Homo sapiens: one gene and its partner. The protein of the gene in region 1 purifies or fractionates together with the protein of each later gene. This does not show direct contact. Each region holds a gene or a part of one and is shown on either strand. Other genes may lie near its edges. The genes, in order: ABCA1 and SPTLC1.

Region 1 (12,214 bases):
ACCACAAAAATAATGGAGGCTTTCTGTTGAGAAACTTTCCGTTTCTGTTGAGAGTATCATTCTCTTGAGAAACTTTCTCCTAAATCAGAGAAAGTATGGAAGCATGGAAAGTATTCCTGAGTAGAACCTCTACAGATATTACAATATTTTTCAAATACAAAGTTTCCATTGTCAGCCTGTTTCCCAAGTGCTTCCACAAACCATTAAATAATTCCACAAACCATTAAAATAATTAATGCTAGGGAATTTTAGGAAAACATTGGTTTACAATCAGAAGGACCGGGGAAGTGGGTCTTCAGCCTTCACGATGACTACAAGCCATTTAAGGGACTAGAATTGCTACTGTTGTCAGAGCAATTTAGGAGTCTGTATTTGAGCACCCGCATAGTGTTCCAGAATGACATATCTGACTGTAACCTGGACACGTGTGATATGTTGTCTCCCCTGCAGATGAGCATTTGAAATCTCAACCCTCGTATTTCTACGAGTGCAGGCCTATAATGGACCCTGGGCACATTTTTTTTTTTTTTGAGATGCAGTCTCGCTCTGTTTCCCAGGCTGGAGTGCAGTGGCACGATATGGCTCACTGCAACCTCCACCTCCTGGGTTCAAGAGATTCTCCTGCCTCAGCCTCCTGAGTAGCTGGGACTATAGGCGCACGCCACCATGCCTGGCTAGTTTTTGCATTTTCAGTAGAGACAGAGTTTCACCATGTTGGCCAGGATGGTCTCGATTTCCTGACCTCTTGATCCACCCGCCTCGGCCTCCCAAAGTGCTGGGATTACAGGCGTGAGGCACCGCGCCCGACCCCTGGACACATTTTGACTTAGAACATATTTTCGGTTTGTGTGAGACAGTGCATTAGTGCAGGATTGGAAAAGAGTGATCAGGAATTGATTGTTTTCAAGGATTGGTTCCTTCTGCTCAAGGAAGTCCCATTGTAAACATAAAAAAATGAATGAAACTGAAGAAGTTCAGTGACTTAGCTTTTTATTATCTTCTGTAGTACTTACCTTTTTGGAGAGGAGTTGGTTGGGATATTTTTCCATTTAAATTTTTTTTTTAAAGGGATCTTCTCTCCCGTAAGCCGGGATACTTAAGCTATATATGTAGTGGCTACAAATTAAGGTCTTCACTGTTTTCATTTTTAGCTGCTAGAATAAGTGAACATTACCTTAGATAGACTCTTCTAATTATGAAGATATCTAGATGTCTAGAAAATATCAAAATGCATGTGGTTTTTGCATTTCTAAAATACTTTTAAAACCAAATACTTTTTCTTTTTTTTTTTTTTCTGAGATGGAGTCTTGCTCTTTTGCCTAGGCTGGAGCGCAGTAGAATGATCTTGGCTCACTGCAACTTCCGCCTCTCAGGTTCAGGTGATTCTCCTGCCTCAACCTCCTGAGTAGCTGGGATTACAGGTGCGTGCCACCACACCCGGCTAGTTTTTGTGTTTTTAGTAGGGACAGGGTTTCACCATGTTGGCCAGGCTGGTCTCAAGCTCCTGACCTCAAGTGATCTGCCAGCCTCAGCCTCCCAAAGTGCTGGGATTACAGGCATGAGCCACCACACCTGGCCTCAAATACATTTTTTTAAGTATCCAGATATTAAATAAATAATACCATTATAGTAGTTGTTATGGTCATTTACTCTAGCATCAAATGTTAAAAGATCATTCTGAACACTTGTTTTGTTTATGCTGAGAGAAGGCCTACTCCAAAAAATGCAACCATCTTCGTATCTGCATGTGGATACAACCATGAATGGCCAAAGTTATTGCAGTGTTGAATAGACACTTATATAGCACTGTGTGGCAAGTACTGTTTGAAATGTTTTTCACGTGTTTATTCATTGTATTTATTTTGAGATAGGGTCTTGCTCTGTTGCACAGGGTGGAGTGCAGCTGCACAGACAAGGCTCACTGCAACCTCAGCCTCCTGCGCTCACGTGATCCTCATACATCAGCCTCTTAAGGAGCTGGGGCCACAGGCACGCACCACTGCTCCTGGCTAAATTTTTACAATTTTTTGTAAAGACAAGGTCTCACTATCTTGCTCAGACTGGTCTTGAACTCCTGGGCTCAAGTGATCCTCCCACATCAGCCTCCCAAAGTGCTGGGATTACAGGCATAAGCCACTGTGCAGGTCATCAAATGCTAATTGAATTTTCACAACAAAACCATTTATTGTCCCTAGTTTACAAGATTAAGTAAATGAGAAGCTAATTTTTCTCTGGCTATATACCTTGCAAGAGGCAGAGCTAAGACTTGAACCCAGCCAGAGTTCTTTAACTCCAGCACTAACATTTCAGCTGCTGCAACCAGGGAGCTTTTCAAGGATGATCACCACATTCTCTACATTCATCTGCTATAATCCTTATCAGAATCTACAGCCTGTATCATATTTTCCTTGTTGCTGTGAGTGGGTCAGCCAAATTCTCTTTAACTTGAAACCTTGGTTGCGTAGGGATTGCAACATCCTGGAAAGAATAGAATAAAATTTACTCAACTCAATTTTTTACTTGGTTCATAATGAAAACTATACTATTGCTTCAGTCAGATGTTTGCGAATAGCTGTGTGATCTCAAAATGTTTTCCTATGTGATCTATAGAAAATGGAATGATAGAGTATTAGGCTGTAAGGGCCTAAGAAACAAAGGAAAAAGAGAAGTGAACTGTTAGTTTAGTTGTAAAACCTAACTTTGGTGAATTGTAAAAATTTGTTATAATACAATATGATTCTTGCTTGTCCTGTCCTTGATGAAGTTGTGGACCTTTTGAAATAAGCTATTTCTCTGTTACTGCTGTTACTGTTTAGAAATCAAATTTAGTTTTTTCTTAAGATATACGTATTTTTGGAAGATAAACACAGTTTCAAAGTCTGCCTTGTTGGCTGGGTGCACTGGCTCATTGTTGTATTCCCAGCACTTTGGGAGGCCAAAGCAGGAGGATCACTTGAGGTCAGGAGTTCAAGACCAGCCTGGCAAATATGGTGAAACCCCGTCTCTACTAACAATACAAAAATTAGCTGGGCGTGGTGGTGGGTGCTTGTAATCCCAGCTACTGGGATTGGGAGGCTGAAGTAGAAGAATTGCTTGAACCTGGGAGGCGGAGGTTGCACTGAGTCGAGATCGTGCCACTTTACTCCAACCTGGGCGACAGAGTGAGACTCCGTCTTGAAAAAAAATGTCTGCCTTGTAAAAGTGAAATAGGATGAGAAAGTGCCTTTCTTATTAATTGGTGTAATGAATTAGAAATAAACTCTTTGAAGACACCTCTTGGTAAAAATAGTTACATTTACTGTTGATTTATGGTATGTTGGATATGTTTTTAAGTTTTCCGTGTAATAACTCAGTTCATTCTCATGAGTGAAATAGGTGCTTTTATTGTCTTTATAGATGGGAAACTGAGGTATAGGCAGGCTAGGTACATTATTATGGAGTTCGTAAGTAGTGGAGCTGAAGTCGCATCCCAGACAGTTTGGCTTCCGTGAGTTTACCAATCTCATGGTAAAGACTTTGTCAGACTATCAAAGTTTTGACAAATGAAATATTAGCAAAAGGCCAAAAGGGATTCTCTATTTTCATTTGAGTATCTTCACCTGAAAATAGTTGCCTGAATAAGTAGCCTGCATAGAAAGGTACATTTTAGAAATACTTGAGGCCAGAGAATGAAAAGCTTACATAAAATTGATTTCCGGTGGGGCCTTCAGTTACTCTCCATTCTACGAAGACCACAAATAGCATTCAGGCAAAGAGCATTTATTCCAACAATGGAGGAGCACTGGATTTGGTTCCTAAAACAAAATAAAGTTTGAAATCCTGTCTTTCCCATGTTGAAAACAAAGTTGGTACAAAACCCTTTAGCTTTTGCAAACCTCCTTTAAGACCCGATTTAAATGCTTCCCTCCTCATGAAGCTCTTCTGGATCCACTCCTTCCCATCACTAAGTTGAAAGTAAGATCCCCTTCTCTTTACTTCCATTAGACTTGGATTACAGCACTCTTTGTATCATGTATTTAATTCTGTTTTTTAATTACAGTTAACATTTATTTGTCTTCCTCTTGAGTGTATGCTTCTCTAGAGGAAGGTCTTTGATTCATTCTCCCCTGGCCTTAATTCATCCCACTTAATATGGAAAAAATTTAATAAATGCTGACTTGAATAAGTCCAACAAGGAGAATGGGAAGCTCATGTTTGCTTCCTGTCTTCTAAAAGACTACTTAAGATAACAGGGTAATCACAGAAAAGCATTAGAAATAGAGTTATATGAGAAACAACTGTAGTTAAGGCTAGGTTTATGTTAGACTGAGAAATTTTAGTGCATACTTAAGTTATTTAGGCCAGGTTACTTTTTGTAGAACAAACATTTCAGTTTCGCTCAGTTTCATTTCCGTTTCTGAGGCAGCTGTGATTTAAGAAAATGCTCTAGTCTGTGGCATTCCATATTCAAGTACTTTGAGTTGTATATTAATTTATTTTTGTTAATAAGAGTGACATGACTCACTAAGTAATTTAGAGATTTAAACACTTTTTTAAAAAACAGTAACTTCATATGCATTGGATCTATTCTTCTATAAAGTCTTTTCTTGGGGGGTGTTTGTTTAAAATTCCCCGGTGTTTTCTCTGCCAAATCCAACTTCCAAGAAGCATTTGGAAGTCAAAACATTTTATCTGGTTAGTCTTAAAGTCCAGATATTTTGTGATAGCTGGTATTTAGTTTATGATATTTCCCAGGAAGAACTTTTTAGTAGTTGAACCATTTATGAAAGACTTCCTTGAAGCTACCTTAGAGAGTTGATTTAGTTCTTCTAAATAAGTAAATAGAATATTAGTATTAGGACATCTTGGAGTATAGATGCAAATATTGGTGAAAAAGAACATGGATATCAGAGTCAAATTAATGTAGATTGGAATTCTGGTTATTACTAATGGATATCTGACATTAGGCAAGTTGCTGATCACTCTTTGCCTCAGTTTCATCATCTGTAAAATAGGTATTTGTGTTTGTGTATAATGTGAACCGTATAATATAATGCTTGGCCTATAGTGAAATTTATTCATACGAGTGTTTTCAGTGATTTTAAAAGCTTGCTTTAGGCCGGGCGCGATGGCTTCTGCCTATAATTCCAGCACTTTGGGAGGCCAAGGTGGGCGGATCATGAGGTCAGGAGTTCGAGACCAGCCTGACCAGCATGGTGAAACCCCGTCTCTACTAAAAATACAAAAATTAGCTGGGCGTGGTGGTGCAAGCCTGTAATCCCAGCTACTCAGGAGGCTTAGGCAGAAGAATCGCTTGAACCCAGGAGGCAGAGATTGCAGTGAGCCGAGATGGTGCCACTGCACAGAGCGAGACTCCATCTCAAAAAAACAAAACAAAACAAAACAAAAATCTTGCTTTATAGTTTACTTCCACATCAAATTGTCTTTATCCCATGTTACTTGCATTGATATCCCAGACATGAAAAGAAAAAAAGATGATAACAATGACAGTTATTAAATTAGGTTCCACTCTTATTCTAGATCACCAATTCATATTACTATTCAGACTTGGAACATTAAATTTTAGTTAAACTTTTTTTCAAATATGCATATAATTGTCAGTGGTTACTATATTTTGGGGAAGAGATTGTTGACTTCTTTGAAGAAAGATACGGATTTTCTCTTCAGAAAAAATACACATGGGCTCATATAATCCAAATTTTATGTGTAATTACAGGGTGTTCATGAATGCCCACAAATCCATTAAGCCATGTGACCTTGGACAAGTCATTTTACTTTTCTGTTTTTTAGGTTGTTGGTCTGTAAAATGATACTACTTGACTTTTAAAGAGCCCTTCAAGCTCTTATGTCCTCTAACCCCAGGTCTGTATTCAGAAGAAGGGGTGGTCCTTTAATTAGAGCCATCTAGAGATCTGAGGAACATGCTGGGCATTAGTGTAACATACCATGTGGATTTTGAGAGGTAAAGAAAAAATAACCAGGGAATGCCTCAGAGCATTCCTGATCAGATCGATGACAGAAGAAAGGAATGAGAGGGAGGAGAGGAAGCTGTTGAAATTTCCTATTTACCTGCTTTGAGTGAATGAAGATTTGAATCATAGAACCAGAAGGGGTTCTCATCTGAAATGCAAAGGAAGGAGGAGTTGGTTTAATTCAATAAGTTTCAGTTGAGTAAACATGATTTAGTGAGATACTGTTCTTGCTTCTGACTCACCATTTGGAAAATCTCTCTAAAATAAAATTGGACTCTCCATCTCGGACATCATTTTGGGTGTAGGTTTTGCTTTTTTTTTTGAGATGGAGTCTCGTTATGTTGCCCAGGCTGGAGTGCAGTGGCGCAATCTCGGCTCACTGCAACTTCCGCCTCCCAGATTCAAGCAGTTCTCCTGCCTCAACCTCCTGAGTAGCTGGGACTACAGGCGTATGCCACCATGTCCGGCTAATTTTTGTATTTTTTTAATAGAGACGGGGTTTTACTATGGTGGCTAGGCTGGTCTTTAACTCCTGACCTTGTGATCTGCCCACCTTGGCTTCCCAGAGTGCTGGGATTACAGATGTGAGCCACAGTGCCCGGCCTAAGTTTTACTTCTTATAATGGACTCCTGTTAAGCCAATAGGTGATGAAAGGAAACCATAACCAACTCTTCAGGCTCATTCATCCTTCAAGAATAGCATGCTAGTACCCATCCTAGGAGGAGAATTGGACTATACCTCATGAGGATAGTTTGAAGTATCTCAGAAGACCCTCACTGGGGGTAGGTCGGTAAGACACAAAGCTTTCTAAAGCACTGTACCAAATTTGTTGTTTGAGAGATCATAACAAATTAGAAGTGGAAAGAAGAAGGAGTAAAAGGAAGAAGAGGTTTCTGGCCAGGAGCAGGGAGGGGGAAGGAGCTGCTAGGAAGATGTTTGGTTGTCATATCCCTGTTCACCCTTGCTTTGCAAAATTCTTGTAGGATGCCAGGTTGGGAGTAATTGTTTTTCACAAGAGTCAAACCACGCTTGTTTTCTTGAAGAAGCAAGTCTTTGGAGGGTGGTGGCTTGAAATCTGTTGGATCTGGTATTTAGGTGATACACTTTGACATAAAGGCAACACTGATGCAAGCAGCAGCTTTCCTTGGAAAGGCAGGGAGAAAGTGAAGGCCCAGACTGATGAGCTTACACTGACCTGCAGACCCTTCTCCATTCCCAGGCATGTTTGGTGGCAGAGTTTACCTTAGTTGGGGTTAGGCTGTTGTCTGGTACTGTGAGAGAGAAGGAAGAAGAAGATATGATATTAACAACAACAATACATATTTATATTTGAAAATTAAATGCACTAATACACCTATAGTGCTATTAAACAAATTTATTTGTTCAGCAAATGTTTGTTAAACACCATGTACTGTGGAAAGTACTAGGTGCTGGACAGAGGTCAAAAGACTTTTAAGAATCTGCCACCATTAATGATCTCTTTCTGCTTGGCATTCAAGGCTCTTTGAAATAAGACTGTGACCCACTTTGATAGTTTTGTCCTGGATTATAAGACACATGCTCGAAGGAACTATAGCTGGTTTTCTCACCAGACTGATTAACATATAGTATGGTTTGGTACCTGTTAAATGAGTCTCTCTCTACAGGTTTTCATCTTCTACTTTAAGAACCCCTTCCTGGCATTGTTTGGCTCCTCATTGTTCTGGAATCTCATGTCCATCTCATGTATTTGCCTTGGTTCACACTTGATCTTCTGCTCATATTCCTCACCTACTGAAATTTTACCCATCAACCAGACCGTGGGTGATGGAACACAGCATGGGCTAGTTCTTCTTATATATGATCTCATTTAATTTTCACTGGAACTCTGAGATAGGTAGCATTTCAGCCCACTCAAGTTGACTCAAATTTTTGTAATCATCAATATATTTTAAAATAACTTTATATTTGACCTGTAATTGGAAAACCAATATGAGTTATCATAAATGAAAGGTAATTTTAAAAATAATTAGGATGAAGACAAATTATTTTTCTCACAGTCTATGTATAAGATAAACTATTGGTTCCCAAAGGCCCCAGCTGACAATGAGACTTCTCTTACTTTGTTGAAAAGGGAATTAGCAAGCATTAAAGAGGTGTCAAAAAGAAGACTAAACAAAAGCTTACTCCTTTTTTTTTTTGAGACGAGTCTTGCTCTGTTGCCCAGGCTGGAGTGCAGTGGCACCACCTCGGCTCACTGCAACCTCTTCCTCCTGGGTTCAAGCGATTCTCCTGCCTCAGCCTCCCTAGTAGCTGGGATTACAGGTGCATGCCACCACACCCGGCTAATTTTTGTATTTTTAGCAGAGATGGGGTTCGTCATGTTGGCCAGGCTGGTCTCCAACTCCTGACCTCAGGTGATCCACCCACCTCGGCCTCCCAAAGTGCTAGAATCACAGGTGTGAGCCGCCGCACCCGGCCGCTTACTCCTTAATGTACTAAGAATGTTATATATAGGCTGAAGAAGTGCTGAAAAGAACCATATTTTCTCATGATGTGGTTCAATGTTTAATACTGTGCTTGTTCATCTCCTAAAATCCTCTGAATATCACTTAAATTCATCCTGTGTAACTCTCCCACATTTGGGGAAATACTGAGCTTGCCTATTATTATATTAGCCCCATATTTCAGATGATGCACCTGAGCCGAGGAGAAGTTAAATAACTTGTTCATGGTTCCATATTTGGCTAATGGCAGAGCCAGGGATTCAAACTCTTGTCTCTCTGACTCCCAGGTTTGTGCTTTTCCCACTTGGCTGAATTTCTCATGCTACCTCCTCCATAACACCTTTCCTAGAACTTTTAAGGAATGCTTCCCCTGTTCTCTCATAGCATTTTAATGTAAGTTGCCAAAGTGTCCCAGTTTGCACCCCTACCAGCAATGTGGGAGAAAATAGCAACATATTTTTGATGTTGGGGTCTAGTGTTACGGTTTCTTCTGCTCTTTGGGATGTATATTCCATGGCTACTGAATACCCAAGTCCCAAACAGTTTTCTTAGACTCAGAAGGTCATCCACTTCAGCTTCTTCATCAAAAAGACATATTTTCTGGCTGGGCACGGTGGCTCACACCTGTAATCACAGCACTTTGGGAGGTGGAGGCAGGAGAATTGCTTGAACCCAGGAGGCTGAAGTTGCAGTGAGCCCAGATCGTGCCACTGCCCTCCAGCCTGGGTGACAGAGCGAAACTCTGTGTCAAGAAACAAAAAAAAGGACTTGTTTTCTGTTCCATTACCCACAGTGGTAGAATGGCGTGCTAAATTTATTCTCCAGCTGCCATTAACTGCAAATTAAAATCTTAGTCTCTTGCCTCTTTAATCCAGGCTTCTTCATACTATACCAGAATTTAGGATAACTATTACAGTGCCCTTTATAGGAGAGAAAGAAGAAATTGTGTCTGTAGATGTCTGTTCCTTTCAGCTTAAAATGGACACTGAAATGTTAAATATTGGACTGGCCTCATTTATTTCTCCTGTCTGTTGGTCCAATTTGAATCTTAAGGCGTCTTTCAACTGGAATTTTTTGTTTCTCTCAACTAAAAATTGTTCTTTGTAAGTTTGAATCAGAACAAAATCCTGAATGTTGAGGGTTTCCTAAAGGCTGTTTCTTTATGCAAAAGCCTGAAACCCGATGTTGATGTTGGCTGCTTAAAATTAACTGTGAATCAAGGCAGGGTTTTTATTTTTATTTTTTTTTTACTTTAATGATTGTGTTAATTATAGTGAAAACCTTGAGTTCACGAGAAAGAAAGCCTTTGGTCAAGTATTGTTTATTAAGTTGTCAGTCTTGTTGCAGGATTTGCAAATTTAGTGGAATTAGTGCCATTTTTCAGTTTACAATTCCAGTCACATTTCACATGATCAGAGCATGGCTTTCTTCTCTGTGGAGCAAATAGAGGGCTGTCTGACACTTGGTTCCAGTGGCTTCCATTAAGCAGAGTGGATATGTCCCTGGAGTCTGCAGAGAAGGGCATGGCACTCTGACCCCAGATGGCACTCCGTTTTGGGACATTGTCCAATTCTAGTTCATAGCATATGTGACCAACACCAGCTCTCACCTGATGTAAACACTTAGCGCGTTGTTGCTTGGGGGATTGGATTGTGTGAATTTTTCAAAACTACAGTTGACAGAAGGAGGCTACCAAAAATGAAACCCAATAATTCCATTTTTGGGAATTATTCCCACTTTTGTTCCATTTTTCCCACTTTGTTCTTTGGCACACAGAATGTTTGATTTGTGAAAATCTTAATAACAGTAGTTTTTTCTATAAGGAACACTCAGAATCTTGATAATATTGGAATAATACAGATCCTTTTGTAGGATCCTCTCAGACCTCATATAATAGAGTTCATGTAGTCAATATTTAAAGAAAAACACCCTTAAGTTTTTGTTTTTCAGAATCACAAGTAAGTGGATTTAAACTTGTGATCTTATTCCCCTTTCTTCTCTTAATTTAGTGAGGCAGCCAGCGAGAGGGTTTGTTTTGGTTATTCTAAAGAAGGAGTTTGCTTGTAAGTTTTGGAGGGCAAGACTTAGACTCTGTGTCTCTGTGCTTGCCCTGGAACTTTGATTAAATTGTCACTAACCGAGTTAGCTGGCCCTCGCCGGGCTGCAGAAATAGAAGTGTCTTGCACACATGACATATGACTGTCTCAAGAGCTGGCTGGTGAAAGGACGTTCTGGAGAAGGCTGCCGATACTGTATGAACTAGAACTGGACAAGAGCCTGGAGATTGGATAACTCAGTTTGGCGCAAGTAAAGGGAATAAAAGTGTTAAGGTGGCAAAATTGTATCCAGGTGTTTATAGGCTCCCTGAGTTCCTGACTTGAGCCTATCTATGGGTTTAGAGTTCAAGGCTCTTTACCAGTGCTGACAATCTTATACTCTAGGTTGAACCTCCGGGGAAGGTGCCCTTGCTTGATGGCATGTTTACCAGGGGTTCTAGAGCCTCAATCACAGATTCTCTCTAGCTCACATGAAGTTAATGAAAATGAATGTGCTTCCCTACAAATTAGAGAGGCTTTGAGGAAAAATCAGATTAAATGCACTCCTGCTTGAACTTATGTTTCTTAGAACACAGCTGGAAATTTTGTCACACAAACCTTTACTTTCAGTGACATTTCTTGACTGGTTTGTTACTGTAGTGAATCTGCTTTAACTATCTTTTCTTATCGCTGAGGTTTTACTTCCATTCTACATGTGATTGTGGAGCGCTGCGTCATTGTGGGTTCAGTGTAGTGGAGAGTAGGAAGATGGTGAGACACAGTAGCTTGTTGCACATTGCTTAATTTATCAGGGATCACTGATGAGTTAGTACACTAGAGAAGATTGTAGGTAGAGCTGAAAAGATGGAGGAATTATAAGGCTCAGATTTCTCTCTTTTTTTTTTTTTTTAAGATGGAGTTTCACTCTTGTTGTCCAGGCTGGAATTCAATGGCATGATCTCGGCTCACTGCAACCTCTGCCTCCCGGGTTCAAGTGAGACTTGATGGTCTCACTTGATGGTTTCCTGGCTCAGCCTCCTGAGTAGCTGAGATTACAGGCACCCACTACCATGCCCAGCTACTTTTTTGTATTTTTAGTGGAGATGGGGTTTTATCATGTTGACCAGGCTGGTCTCGAACTTCTGACCTCAGGTGATCACCTGCCTCAGCCTCCCAAAGTGCAGGGATTACAGGCATGAGCCACTGCGTCTGGCCAAGGCTCAGATTTCTAATAGAGATTTCTAATGGACATAGAGGCTGGAGGAAATGGGATGGACAGGAAAACTGAGTCAGGTGCCAAAAACTTGTAGGGGGCCGGGTGCGGTGGCTCACGCCTGTAATCCCAGCACTTTGGGAGGCTGAGGCGGGTGGATCACGAGGTCAGGAGATCGAGACCATCCTGGCTAACACGGCGAAACCCCGTCTCTACTAAAAATACAAAAAATTAGCCGGGCGTGTTGGCAGGCGGCTGTCGGTAGTCCCAGCTACTCGGGAGGCTGAGGCAGGAGAATGGCGTGAAGCCGGGAGGCGGAGCTTGCAGTGAGCCGAGATCGCGCCACTGCACTCCAGCCTGGGCGACAGAGCCAGACTCCATCTAAATAAATAAATAGATAAATAAATAAAATAAAATAAAAACTTGTAGGGAGGTGGCAGTGTGCTATGGAGGATAGGTGCAACCTCTGTGAGAATGTAGAGAAAATAGTATAAGTGAGTGGTGAG
Region 2 (12,214 bases), about 13 Mb from region 1:
TTCTCTAGAAATGGTTAAATTTTGCCTTCCAATTATTTCTTAAAATCATTAGGAATTTCCTGAGTGGTCTTTTCAGAAGTATTCATGACGGCAGAGAAAGGATACTGTTTCTGGTGTTTAAAAATCTGTATTCTATATAATGTGTTTGTGGGAGGTAGATACAGTTACGCGTGCGTGCGTGTGTGTGTGCATGTGTGTGTGTGTCAGAAACACCACTGGCATGCATTCAGCAAAACCTCTTAAAGTCCCAAACAGAATGAGGTGTCATGTTTCCTTTTCTGAGGGAAATGGACCCAGACTGCCCGCAGTGCCTAGTGGGTTTTGCTCCTGGAGCCTCAGGGCAGAGGAAGTCAGCCAGTCTTGAACAGCTGTCTTACCAACCACCATGGGAAGAGTTACAGAAAGCTTTTTCTCCAAAACATGCGCATAAGAGCTGTGCAACCTGTGTTACAGAGTTGAACTATAAAACGTAAAATTGCCTTACATTATCGACATCCCGCTAACCATATAGTCCCAGAGAAAAATGTAAAGCAGAGTGAATATCCCGGGAGGTTGGATGGAAGCACCTCCTCCAAGGCAGACTGACATTCAGCAGTTACATGCACCGAGGAGGTAAATGGAATAAATGGAAAGATAAATGGAAGTGTAATTCAAGCAGATTTAGCAGTACACTACAGCCTTTTTTAAGGCATGAAAATTTTTATGGAGGAAAAAACTTGAACTTCACTGTTGTAGTTTTGTGAATGCTTCCAGCAGTTGTCACTTTGGGAAATACTGTGAGGAAATACTCACAAGCGCCTGAGAGTAGAGAGCAGAATGTACGGGCTTTATTTGGATCCTGATTCAAACAAATGCTGTTAAAAGAAAATTTGGTGAGACAATCAGAGATATCTGAACACTGAATATTTGAATATATTTAACATCAAATTTAAACTTAACATTTAAAAATTGTTAATGTCTTAAGTATGATACTAGTTTTGTGATTATGTTTTGAGAGAGTTTTTATCTTTTAGAAATACACAGTGCAATGTTTATAGATGAAACCCCATGAAGTCTGGGACTCACTACAAAGAAATGATGAGGGTGGTAGGGGATATAGGTGAAGCAAGGTTGTCCTTGAGTTGATAATGTTTGAATCTGGGTGATGGGGATTCTTTGTTCTGTTCTACTTTGTTCAGGCTTGAAATTTTTCATAATGAAAGGTTTAAACATGCTTTTTAAAAAGGGCAGGAGTGCAGAGTTTCTCAAAACTCTGCTGGATCTATGAAACACTAAGGAAAACACTAGCTGTGTTCTGACAATCCATTAACATGGCCATCAGTAAGTAATGATTGAATGCCTACTGTGTGCCCAGAATGGAACTTGGTGCTGAGGGCTGGACCCAAAGATGAGGACCGAAGGAGTTCTGAGTGGTCAGAAAGATGTAGGACTCAAAGCCCATTAGGTCATTTTAGAGCACATTAGGTTCTTCTGCTGTCCAGTTGGTCAAAGATTCCATCGCCATGACGTTTGGATAAATTGACTTATGAAATGCTGAGAGGCAAACTGAATACAAGAATAAAGTGCTCAAAACTTCGATAGACTTTTTATTTATCTCAGTGCATCCCATGAGGAAGGCCAGCTAGACCACTGTTTTAGCGAGGAAATAGTCTTATTTTGTACCTGTGACTACTTTTAATATCGAACAGCTTTGGGTTTTATTTTCTTATAATTTATTTGTCTTTGCTGTGAGTTAATTTGTCATGTATAATGAAATGGTAAAAATGTATAAAATGAGACAGTTTCAGATGGGCCATGAGACTACAGTTCATTCAGCGATAGATGTTATATGGTTTATTTTTTATTTTCATGTAGATAGGTAGTTTGAATCCAGATATTAACAGACAGTTTAATGCTGTTAAATTTTGTCTCTAGGCTTGAAGTTGGCCTTTTTTTTCTTTAAACTGTGGAATAACTGTCACTCCTCCTTTTCCGGCAGATTGATGATATTGATCTTATCAGTGCCAACATGGAGAATGCACTTGCTTCTATTGGAGGTTTCTGCTGTGGCAGGTCTTTTGTAATTGACCATCAGGTGGGTTCTTTTTAAAAACAGGAGCTAAAACTGAAACTAATTTCTCCATTGGTCACCTCAAAATATAATTTTGAAATACGAAATTTTACTTAGTTTATCACACAATTTTTATTTAAATGTCAATTTTTAAAGAATCACTCAAAATATTTCTATTTAGAAATGATCTCACATTTAACAAAAAGTCTTGTTGCTGTTACACGTATAATGTTTATTTATGGCTGGATCTTACCCCCCTCACCACATGTACACACTGTTCAGTAGTTGTTCTAGAGAACTGGTGCCTTTCAAATGTTTACCTAGAAAGGACAGAGAATGTGTATATGTCTTCATTTGTTTCTTCTCAGCGACTTTCCGGCCAGGGATACTGCTTTTCAGCTTCGTTACCTCCCCTGTTAGCTGCTGCAGCAATTGAGGCCCTCAACATCATGGAAGAGAATCCAGGTATAACCCTTTAAAAACCCAAGGAATCAAAGAGATTTCAGGTTACGTTAGTTGTGTTACTGATTTACTTACTGGAGAAATTATTTGCCAGACAAAACTGGTTTGCAGTTACATTATATGGCATTCATAGGAAGAATGGCAGTGAAGAAGCTATTCCTGCCCCAAGGACTTGGGGTCAGAGCTTTTCTCCTGTGCTTGGGGCCAGAGCCAGAGCCAAAGCAAGGCTAGCTCAGATAGTGGGTGGAGATGCTGGGAGGACGAGGGGCTCTCAGCCAGTTCTGGGCCTAAACGTTCCATTGGTGTAAATAAGCCAGTCTTTATTTGGTTAATAGTTTTTTGAGAAATCAGCTGAAGCATGCTGCTTTTTTATCTGTGCAATTTTATAAATATTGTGAGTTTTCACCTTTAGCCTTTGAATCATCAGTTGGTACTGAGGCCAAGCCGGGTTTACCAGCAAAGAACTTACTCAGTGGGAAAAATAAAAAGTCTACTAAGAATTTAAAATGTGGCCTTTGGCTATGACAGTGCCACCTTTGCAAAGCTTAAAACGGAAAGGGAGCAGCAGGCCCTACCCGGTACAGTATTTCTGAATCTTCATCACTGATACTAATTCAGAGAACCAGAAAATGTGTGTCTCTGTGCTCATTCATATGCTTGCTTCTCAGATGGCCTGGCACGCCTACCTTCTGATCAGATACTTTAGTTTTGGGATTTTCCTTGAATAAAAAAGGAAAATATCAAGAAAAGATTGTAAAAATTACTTTACTATAGTTGATTTTTTACCAAATTGTTTAGGATAAAGAAATAAGCAATAAATTTGTACCCTTTGATTCTTAGCCAGATTAGGATCTTGATGAGAACAAGAGGCATTGATTGTTCTTGAAAGCATCATTCCAGGTTTGTTGAAAGTGGGATACTGAGGTGAGAAGGGGCCAGTTAGCACGCACCAGAGACAAAGCTTGGGCCTTCAGGGGAGTATGGGTTCTTGGCTCTGTTAGTATGTAGAAGGATTTGTAGCATTTTAAATTGATGAACTTGATCTGGGTCTTCAAAAATATTTTTAGGTTAGTACTATCATAAGTTTCAAATAGACTCTCAAACGTATTTTTTTCATCTAGGTATTTTTGCAGTGTTGAAGGAAAAGTGCGGACAAATTCATAAAGCTTTACAAGGGTGAGTTTTATATATTTTCAACCAACATAAAGTTTATCTGCACCACACTTAACAACTAATGGAAAGTTTTAAATTTCTAGGCTTGGGTCAGTTTGACCAGATTGCAGCTAAGAAACCAAAAACTTAGTTCACTCACATTGGTTTATTTGTGTAAAACCAGATCATCTGTTTTAAAGAATCGTGACTTTGTTTTTCTGAAAATGAAACAAACTCATTAATAAAATATTACAGCAGTACAGAAGATAGAAAGATGAAAATAACAACCCAACATCTTACCACCAGAAATAACCAGGGTAAACACTGAAGCATCTCTCCATGTCTGCACACACAGGGATGCCATTATATATTATGTAATTAGATGACTGGGTTCATACCATCTGTGTTACTTTTTAATAAATTACTAAGTTTTAACACAAGAAAAAGAAACAAGTGAAATTTTATCAGTGTTTTTTTTTTTTTTTTTTTTTTTTTTTTACTACACAAGAGTCACTTTTTTTTTTTTTATTATACTTTAAGTTTTAGGGTACATATGCACATTGTGAGGTTAGTTACATATGTATACATGTGCCATGCTGGTGTGCTGCACCCACTAACTTGTCATCTAGAAGAGTCACTCTTTAAGATTCCTCTGTAGTTAAAAAAAAAAAAAAATGGAGGTTGGTGATATCTCCAGGCACATTTCTGGTCTTATATAAAGTGATTTCACATTGCCCGAGGTCTTTCTTTTTGCCTTTCCTAAGGTTAAACATGCTTTCTTGGTCATGAAAGTCCTATCTGTGTTCCGGATATGGAAACTGGAGACTTAACTGAAAGAAAAGGACAATTGATAAATGAGTACATCACAGCTGTTCCAGATAAAGAAGGGGCAGAGACATTAAAGTTCTGGGTGTGTCTGTGTGATAGTAACAGCAGTTCTTGCATGATTTATGGTAGAGAGATATATTTGTATTGGTTCCAGTTCCATTGGTTTGTGAAATATTAATATGCCAACACAGCCTAGCATATTGGAGTCACTGGAAATGCATCAGTGCTAGCCTTACATGCCTTTCACTCTATGGTGTTAACCTGCCTTTTTCTAAGTCTAATCTCCACTTACCCCAGCTGTATCACACTTTTTCTTTCCAAAATTCCTAATCCTCTGTCTTCACTCCCCTCACTTTTAGCTAACAGCCTGGCCTTATGCTGTCACTTGGGACTCTGTCATATTTCCTGACAAATCTACACACCTGTGGGTATCTGAACCAGTCTTCCCTCCTGTAGACCAGTAAATGTTGCTCCAACTACCACAGGCCCTTTTTTTAAGGACTGAGTGCCTTTGCTTGTCCCTGCTACTTTGTCATCAGCCTGTCCCCTTTCTTGTGTTATTTGATTAGCAGTCATGTCCACTTTAAATTCCTCTTGCCTGTCACCTGACGTTTCCCTCTGCAACTCCCCATGTCTTTGCTCCTCTCAGTAGCTATCATCTCCACGTCTTCACTTACACTGGCAGCTCTGAGACCTGGCTTCTGCTACTGCCCTTCGCCTGGACTGTTTTTGTGGAGGTCTCCACTGACTGCTGAATCCAGTGGACCATCTTCAGAGCTCATCTTCTTGATGTCCCCATAGTTTTCAGCACAGGTGACCACTCTTTCCTTCTTTGGACTCTGCTACACTGCACGCCTGGATTTCCTTTTACATCTTTGAATGGCTCCATCTCGGTCTCCTCTGAAGGCTTTCTTTCAACACCTTGCTCTTCAAGGCTTTGTCTGTGCTTCTCTTTTCTTCTCATTACCTTCTTGAAGAATTGCCTTCTCCCACACCTGGAGCTCCACATCGTTTCATGACACCTGTATAGAGACAGCTCCCAGCTTCGTATCACCACCCTGGACCACTGCAGCTGCAGGTCTCACACCCAGTTGCCTACTCAGTATCCACAGTTGGAAGACTCCATGGCACCTCACAGTAAACACACATTCATAAGGGTCGCAGGGGCAAACCGTGCTGGTATCTAGATGGTTACAGAGAACAGTAAACAAAATAGCAAAGAGGCCAATGTGACAGGAGGAAAGGAGTGGGAAATCTGGTGGAAGATGAGGGCTGGGTCATGGGCCATCCGCACACAGGGACTTGTGAGCCGTGATGAGGACATTGGCACACAGAGGAAGCCCTGGCATGGTTTTGAGCAAAAAAGTGAAACAGCCTATCTGATACCCTAGCAAAATTACTTTTGCATGGTGTGAAAAAATACATTGAACAGCAGTAAGAACAGAAGCAGGGAGACCAGTTAGGAGATTGACGCAGGTGAAAGGTGATAGTGACTCTGACCATGTTGGGAGCCATGACCTGCGAAGTGTCTGGATTCTGGGTATCTTCTGAAGGGAGAGCACACTGGATCTAGCAGAAGTTCATATGCAGGGTGAGTGAGAAAGAGAAGACTCCAGGTAGAGCTCAGGGGGTTTGGTCAGAGTAAATAGGTAGAGTTGCTAATGAGTGAGAGGGACAGAACTGTGGAGAAATACCTTCTGGGGAAGGTCAGCAGTGGTTATGTTAAGCCCAAAGTGCCCATCAGACATGGAGTGCAGAGCAGCAGCTGGATATACAAGTCTGAAGTGTGAGGGAGAGTACTGAGCTAGAGATAAATGTTTGAGTCTTGGGGTATGGATATTATATGAAGCATTTCAGTGTGAAGAGGTCAGAAACTAGCAAAGACTAGTCTGAGAAAGAGTGGCCAGTGAGGAAGAGGCAGGCTGGAAGAGCCTAGAGTCCTGGAAACCAGGGAAGAAATTGCTTATGTAGGAGGTCAGCCTGTGACATGCCGCTGCTGACAGGCCAGACCAGATAACAGAACACTGATCCTTTGACTTCGTTATGTAGAGGTATTATGACTTGGTGAGTAGTTTCAGGGGAGTGTGGGGTAAAATGCCTGCTTGAAGGAGGTTCCAGACAGGTGGACACGGCCTAGATGACTGTTTTGAGGAGTTTTTCTCTGAAGAGGGACTAAGAAACAAGATGGTGGCTGGAGAAAGAAATTGGTCAAGAGAAGAATATTTCAGTTTAAGATTACTGAGATCAATTTCTGAATAACATCTGGCTAAGTATAAAACATCCTTTCTCCTACTGGTTGACAGTACTGTATCATATACCAGGTTCCCATTTGTACCTAGATCTGTTTTTAAACTGTCTCTTCCATTCCATTGGTATATTTGCTCATTCCTCAGACTCTTTTGATTTTGTCTGTTTTTATCACTGTTTTGGAATACAGGTTTATCACTAGTGTCTGTTTTTATCACTGTTTTGGAATATGGGTTTCTCCAAAATTATTGCTAGAATCTTAATTGGAACTGCATTAAATTTTCTGATGAATGTGGAGGGAAATGTCATCCATGAACATGAGCTCTCTATTTAAATCTCCCTTTGTGTCCTTTAATGGAATTCCTATAAAGCCCTTGTACCTTTATGGAACCTTTAAAGGGAATTTTCAGACATCCTATAGATTTTGTTGCTGTTATGAATGGGGTTGTCTTTTCTGTTATATTTTCTACTTGATTATTGCTGATTCATAAGAATATTATTATTTTCTCTAAACTGACCTTATATCCAGGAGTCTTTCTAAACTCTTAGTATTTCCAGTAATTGTTTCATTGTGTTATGATGATGTGCATGGAAGTCCTGTTATCTGCAATAATGGTGTTCTCTCTTTCCTTCCTAATGCTTTTGCGTCTTAGTTCATTTTCTTATTTTATTGCTTTGGTCTGAGTCCCTAATTTGTATTGAACAGTGGCAATAATAGCAAACATTCCTTCCTTATTCCCAGTATAGAAGCACTTCTTCATTAAGTATAAAACATCATGCTATGGGTTTTTGGTGAGTAGCTTTTATTGAATTATTCCTAGTTTTGTTTTGTTTTGTGGTTTTTTTAAGAGACAGGATTGTGCTATGTTGCCCAGGCTGGAGTGCAGTGGCTATTCACAGATATAGTCAACACACTATAGCCTCAAACTCCTGGACTCAACCAATCCTCCTGCCTTCACCTTCCAACTAGTTGGGACTACAGGCATGTACCTCTGCACCTGGCTAAATGATTCCTAAATTTGAAGGCCTTTTTTTAAAATCATAAATAGACGTTGAACTTTATCCATTTTTTTTACATCTATTAAGGTAAATCATAAATTTGTCTTATGGCTGAATTACATTGAAATATTTTCTGATGTTAAACCATCCTTGCATTCTTGAGAAAACCGTTACTTCATTATAATATCTTTTTCTACACTGTTAGATTTATTTAGCTAATATTTTAATTTGACTTTTTATATCTGTTTATAATTTAAATGGATCTATAACCTTGTACCAACTTTACGTAACATAGGAGTCAGTGTTAGGGTAGCTTCGGTAGATGATTTGGCTATTTTCCACTCTTTCTGCTTCATGGAAGCACTGAGTAAAACAAGGCTTGATCGTTTCTTCAGAAGTTGAGAGTAGGTCTCCCACTTTACAGCCATCTAGGCTTGGGGCCTTTGGTTTGGGAATAGTTGTTGATTATCTCTCATATATCTATATTATTTTAACTTTTTATTTATGTAAATTTGGTTTTGTGTGTTTTCATCATAGTGTGTTTTCTTATTTTTATGCACTGTCTCATTGCACTGTGTTCTTACTCTTCTTCAGCTTCTTACATTTAGCTTTTGGTTTTATTTCGTATTTTCCAATAAATATATTAAAGATAAATATTTTCAAAGGCAGTATCTTCAATGTTTAGTTCTGAGTAATTTTTTTGTTCAATTTTTCTCTAATTTCTCACTTCTCTCATCTCTGAGATTGAGTTTGGGAAAGGAAGTCAACATCCTATGCTGGTTTGCCTCTGTTTTCATTGTAATAGAGATAGTTATTGGTGTCAGGTTCTCCCTATAGACTGTAAGCACACAGTGGAGACCGTGGCTACCTTGGTGATTGCTCTGTCCCTGGGAGCTAGCCCAGTGCTCGTTTATCCACTGGGATAAGATGATATGTTTGGCAAAGTCTTTTGTTAAGGAATAGTATAATAGACTCTGAAACACGGCTTCGCTGAACTCAAGCTATAACTGTGTCCGTTTGGTTTTAATTAAACTCATCTGACATTCAGCATCTAGGCAACCAGAGACAGGGCATTTTGTTTAATTCCTTCTCTCACTAGCATGTGAAATGAGACCATTTGATCAAAAAGCACAAGTTAGATCTGGACCTCAGGTGCCTTGTATTTCTTTTCTTTTTTTTTTTTTTTCTTTTGAGACAGAGTCTTGCTCTGTCACTCAGGCTGGAGCACAGTGGCGCGATCTCAGCTCACTGCAACCTCCACTTCCCAGATTCAAGCGATTTTCCTGTCTCAGCCTCCTGAGTAGCTGGGATTACAGGCACGTGCCACCACACCTGGCTAATTTTTGTATTTTTAGTAGAGACGGGGTTTCACCACATTGGTCAGGCTGGTCTTGAACTCCTGACCTCGTGATCCCCCCAACCTTGGCATCCCAAAGTGCTGGGATTATAGGTGTGAGCCATCGCGCCTTGTATTTCTTGAGGAAAATTGAGGCCATTTGATTCATATGAAATGCTATTTGGAAAGCAGTTTTTTTTGTTGTTTTTTTTGTTTTTTGCTTTTGTTTTTGTTTTTGTTTTGAGACAGAGTCTTGCTTTTGTTGCCCAGGCTGGAGTGCAGTGGCACGATCTCAGCTCATTGCAACCTCTGCCTCCCAGGTTCAAGCGATTGTACTACCTCAGCCTCCCGAGTAGCTGGGATTATAGGTGTCCACCACCACACCTGGCTAATTTTTATATTTTTAGTAGAGACAGGGTTTCACCATGTTGGCCAGGCTGGTCTCAAACTCCTGACCTCAGGTGATCTACCTGCCTTGGCCTCCCAAAGTGCTGGGATTACAGGCGTGAGGCACCACACCTGACTGAAAGCAATTTTTTAATACTGTGAGAATACATGACCTTTAAAAAAAAAAAGATACTTGATATATGCGTTTAACATGGTCAGAATTTACACAGGAAATGGGTTTTCAAAGTGTATTGCTTAGTTTCTACATTAGTAAAGAACTAATCTAGAAGGTTCCCCCACATTCCACATGCTCAAGATTCCATGATTCAGACCTGTAGCCTGCTTTATTGAGAGATCTAGCATGATATATTTATATTTAAAGAAAGGAGACGCTAATTAATAATGTTCCAAGGGTGATTGGAAGGCCAGGTCAGATGAGTTTCCAGAATTCACATTATTGTAACACACAGTAGTCATTCTGTAAAGGCTTGTTGAGTCCTAAACTGGGAAGATGCCATTGTGCTACCTAGTACTTTTTATTGTCATTTCATTCTGAGGGAAAAACAAATCGTTTTAGGTGAAACAAACTAAATGAAAGGAATCTAAAATGTTTAGCTCAGTTTCAAATAGACATATATCACATTTGTGTCCTAGGAGGTAGGTCAAAAGTCAAATAATATTTGTTGTTATAGGATAAAATAGACTTTAAATGAACCTGACTAGATAGTAGCCGAGATCGTGCCACTGCACTGCAGCCAGCCTGAGTGACAGAGCGAGATGCCATCTCAAAAATAATAATAATAATAATAGTAGTATGACATAGCATCTCATGGCAGCTGTAGTAAAAATACAGGATTAAATTTAATTTAATTTAAAAATACAGGATTTGGCCCCTAAAGATCTATCTTTCTCCTTGAGAAGCTACAGATTTTTGTGCTATTAATCCTAAGTAAAAAGAAAATAATTTTAATCCAAGTAAAATCTAAAACTTAACATGCAAATAAGGACGTTTTTCTATCTAAACATATTGCTGTTAGTCAAAATATAAGGTATGTTTGGTATTTGTTGAGTTTTTCTTTGAGACAGAGTTTTGCTCTGTCACCCAAGCTGGAGTGTAGTGGCACAATCTCAGCTCACTGCAACCTTGACCTCCTGAGTTCAAGCGATCCTCCCACCTGAGCTTCCCAACTAGCTGGGACTACAGGCGCAAGCCACCACACTCGGCCAATTTTTTGTTTTTTGTTTTTGTTTTTGTTTTATTTGTAGAGATGGGGTATAATGTTGTTAATGTTAGAAATCATCCCTGTAATTTATGAGAGACAAAAACTGAAGACATAGATAATAAGCAAGGAAGCATAACATAAACTGTAGTGAGTAGCTTGTGAAGGATCCAGACAGGATGAAAAATAGCAAATGATGGAGCAGAGCCTTCCCTAAAGTGGGTGATGAAGAAGGCCCCAGCAGCAGGCAGTGCTGGAGCTGGGCCCTGGCACATGCAGCCAACACAGGGAAGAACAAACATTGGGGGCGAGGGAGCACATGGCAAGGGAATGACAGGCCAAGGTGGGGCCCAGAGGGCCTGTAAGGAGGCACAGACTCCCTGGTGGGAGGCTGGGGCCATGAGACCCGGTCCTGCACTCAGGAAGCCACATTGCAGGCAGACTTTTTTAGATGAGGAAGCACTGCCCAGAGTGCCTCGTTTCCCTTTCTTTGTTGGAATTGGAATGATGCTTCCCATCAGTCGCAAGCTTCTGTACGTTCACTGTGCCTTGACATTGTGGACTTCTAACATTATTTCTCCGTGAGCGATCTTCAAGCCTGGAAGGGACTTACAGCTGTGTGTGTGTTTCCCTTCTTCAGCATTTCTGGATTAAAAGTGGTGGGGGAGTCCCTTTCTCCAGCCTTTCACCTACAACTGGAAGAGAGCACTGGGTCTCGCGAGCAAGATGTCAGACTGCTTCAGGAAATTGTAGATCAAGTAAGTATCCGTTGACTTGAGGCATCCCCCCACACCACTTCTGCCCTTGCCCCAAGCAATTTTTTAATGTTAAATTTTTAAGAAAAGTCTCTTTGCCCTGAGAGAGAAGAGGGTAGAAAGGAAGATGCTGGTGACCCGCTCTTGACATGGAATCCTAATCCTCCAGGTCCTTCCTAGCTTCTGGCCATGGTAACAGGCAGCAGGCCCTCCCATTGGGTCAATGTGTGGCTCCCTCCAAAGATATTGTGTTTTGTACCACTTTGCATTTAAATATACTTGGCCTCTCCTCTGAAAAATTAGCCTTGCAGAAAACTCACTTGCTCACCATTTTACAAAGCCAGGCTTTCCTATGTGTAGTTGGGGGAGGCATTGTGTGTGGGCATAGCACACATTCCTGGACGGCTGGCTGTCCCCGCAGCACAGCTCAGGGACAGTCCACTCACAGTCACCCTGAAGTCAGGATGCTCTTGTAAACGGAAAGGAAGACCGCTTTTTATAACATACCTAATTTGGGGAGATTTATTTAAATTTCTTTATCTTCCAAAAGTTATTTTACTACTAATTGTCTAAGAAACACATCACCAGGGAAAACTGCTTGCCCCTTTTCATCCAGTAGCACTACCCCTCCAGAGTGCTTCCTGCCCTGGGCACGCGGGTTTACAGTGGTTCAGAGCCAACAGAAGTTTCTTTAAAAGGGGGAGGAAGAGCAGCGGAATAACCTGGGCAGGAAGGACTCAGGACGGGCAGTGGGATGCCACCCACCTTGCACCCCTCT

The links.
Region 2: the proteins of ABCA1 (region 1) and SPTLC1 purify together in Homo sapiens (affinity purification with western blotting; 2 studies listed by BioGRID and IntAct, with this or other methods). This does not show direct contact.

The regions. Positions count from the first base shown.
Region 1 is NC_000009.12:104,913,692-104,925,905, reverse strand, and holds part of ABCA1 (phospholipid-transporting ATPase ABCA1), read left to right. Parts: intron 1-3,363; exon of another isoform or gene 3,364-3,794; intron 3,795-6,069; exon of another isoform or gene 6,070-6,120; intron 6,121-7,168; exon of another isoform or gene 7,169-8,205; intron 8,206-12,214. UniProt on the Homo sapiens protein: Catalyzes the translocation of specific phospholipids from the cytoplasmic to the extracellular/lumenal leaflet of membrane coupled to the hydrolysis of ATP.
Region 2 is NC_000009.12:92,037,473-92,049,686, reverse strand, and holds part of SPTLC1 (serine palmitoyltransferase 1), read left to right. Parts: intron 1-1,978; coding exon 1,979-2,074; intron 2,075-2,418; coding exon 2,419-2,515; intron 2,516-3,633; coding exon 3,634-3,688; intron 3,689-11,321; coding exon 11,322-11,439; intron 11,440-12,214. UniProt on the Homo sapiens protein: Component of the serine palmitoyltransferase multisubunit enzyme (SPT) that catalyzes the initial and rate-limiting step in sphingolipid biosynthesis by condensing L-serine and activated acyl-CoA (most commonly palmitoyl-CoA) to form long-chain bases.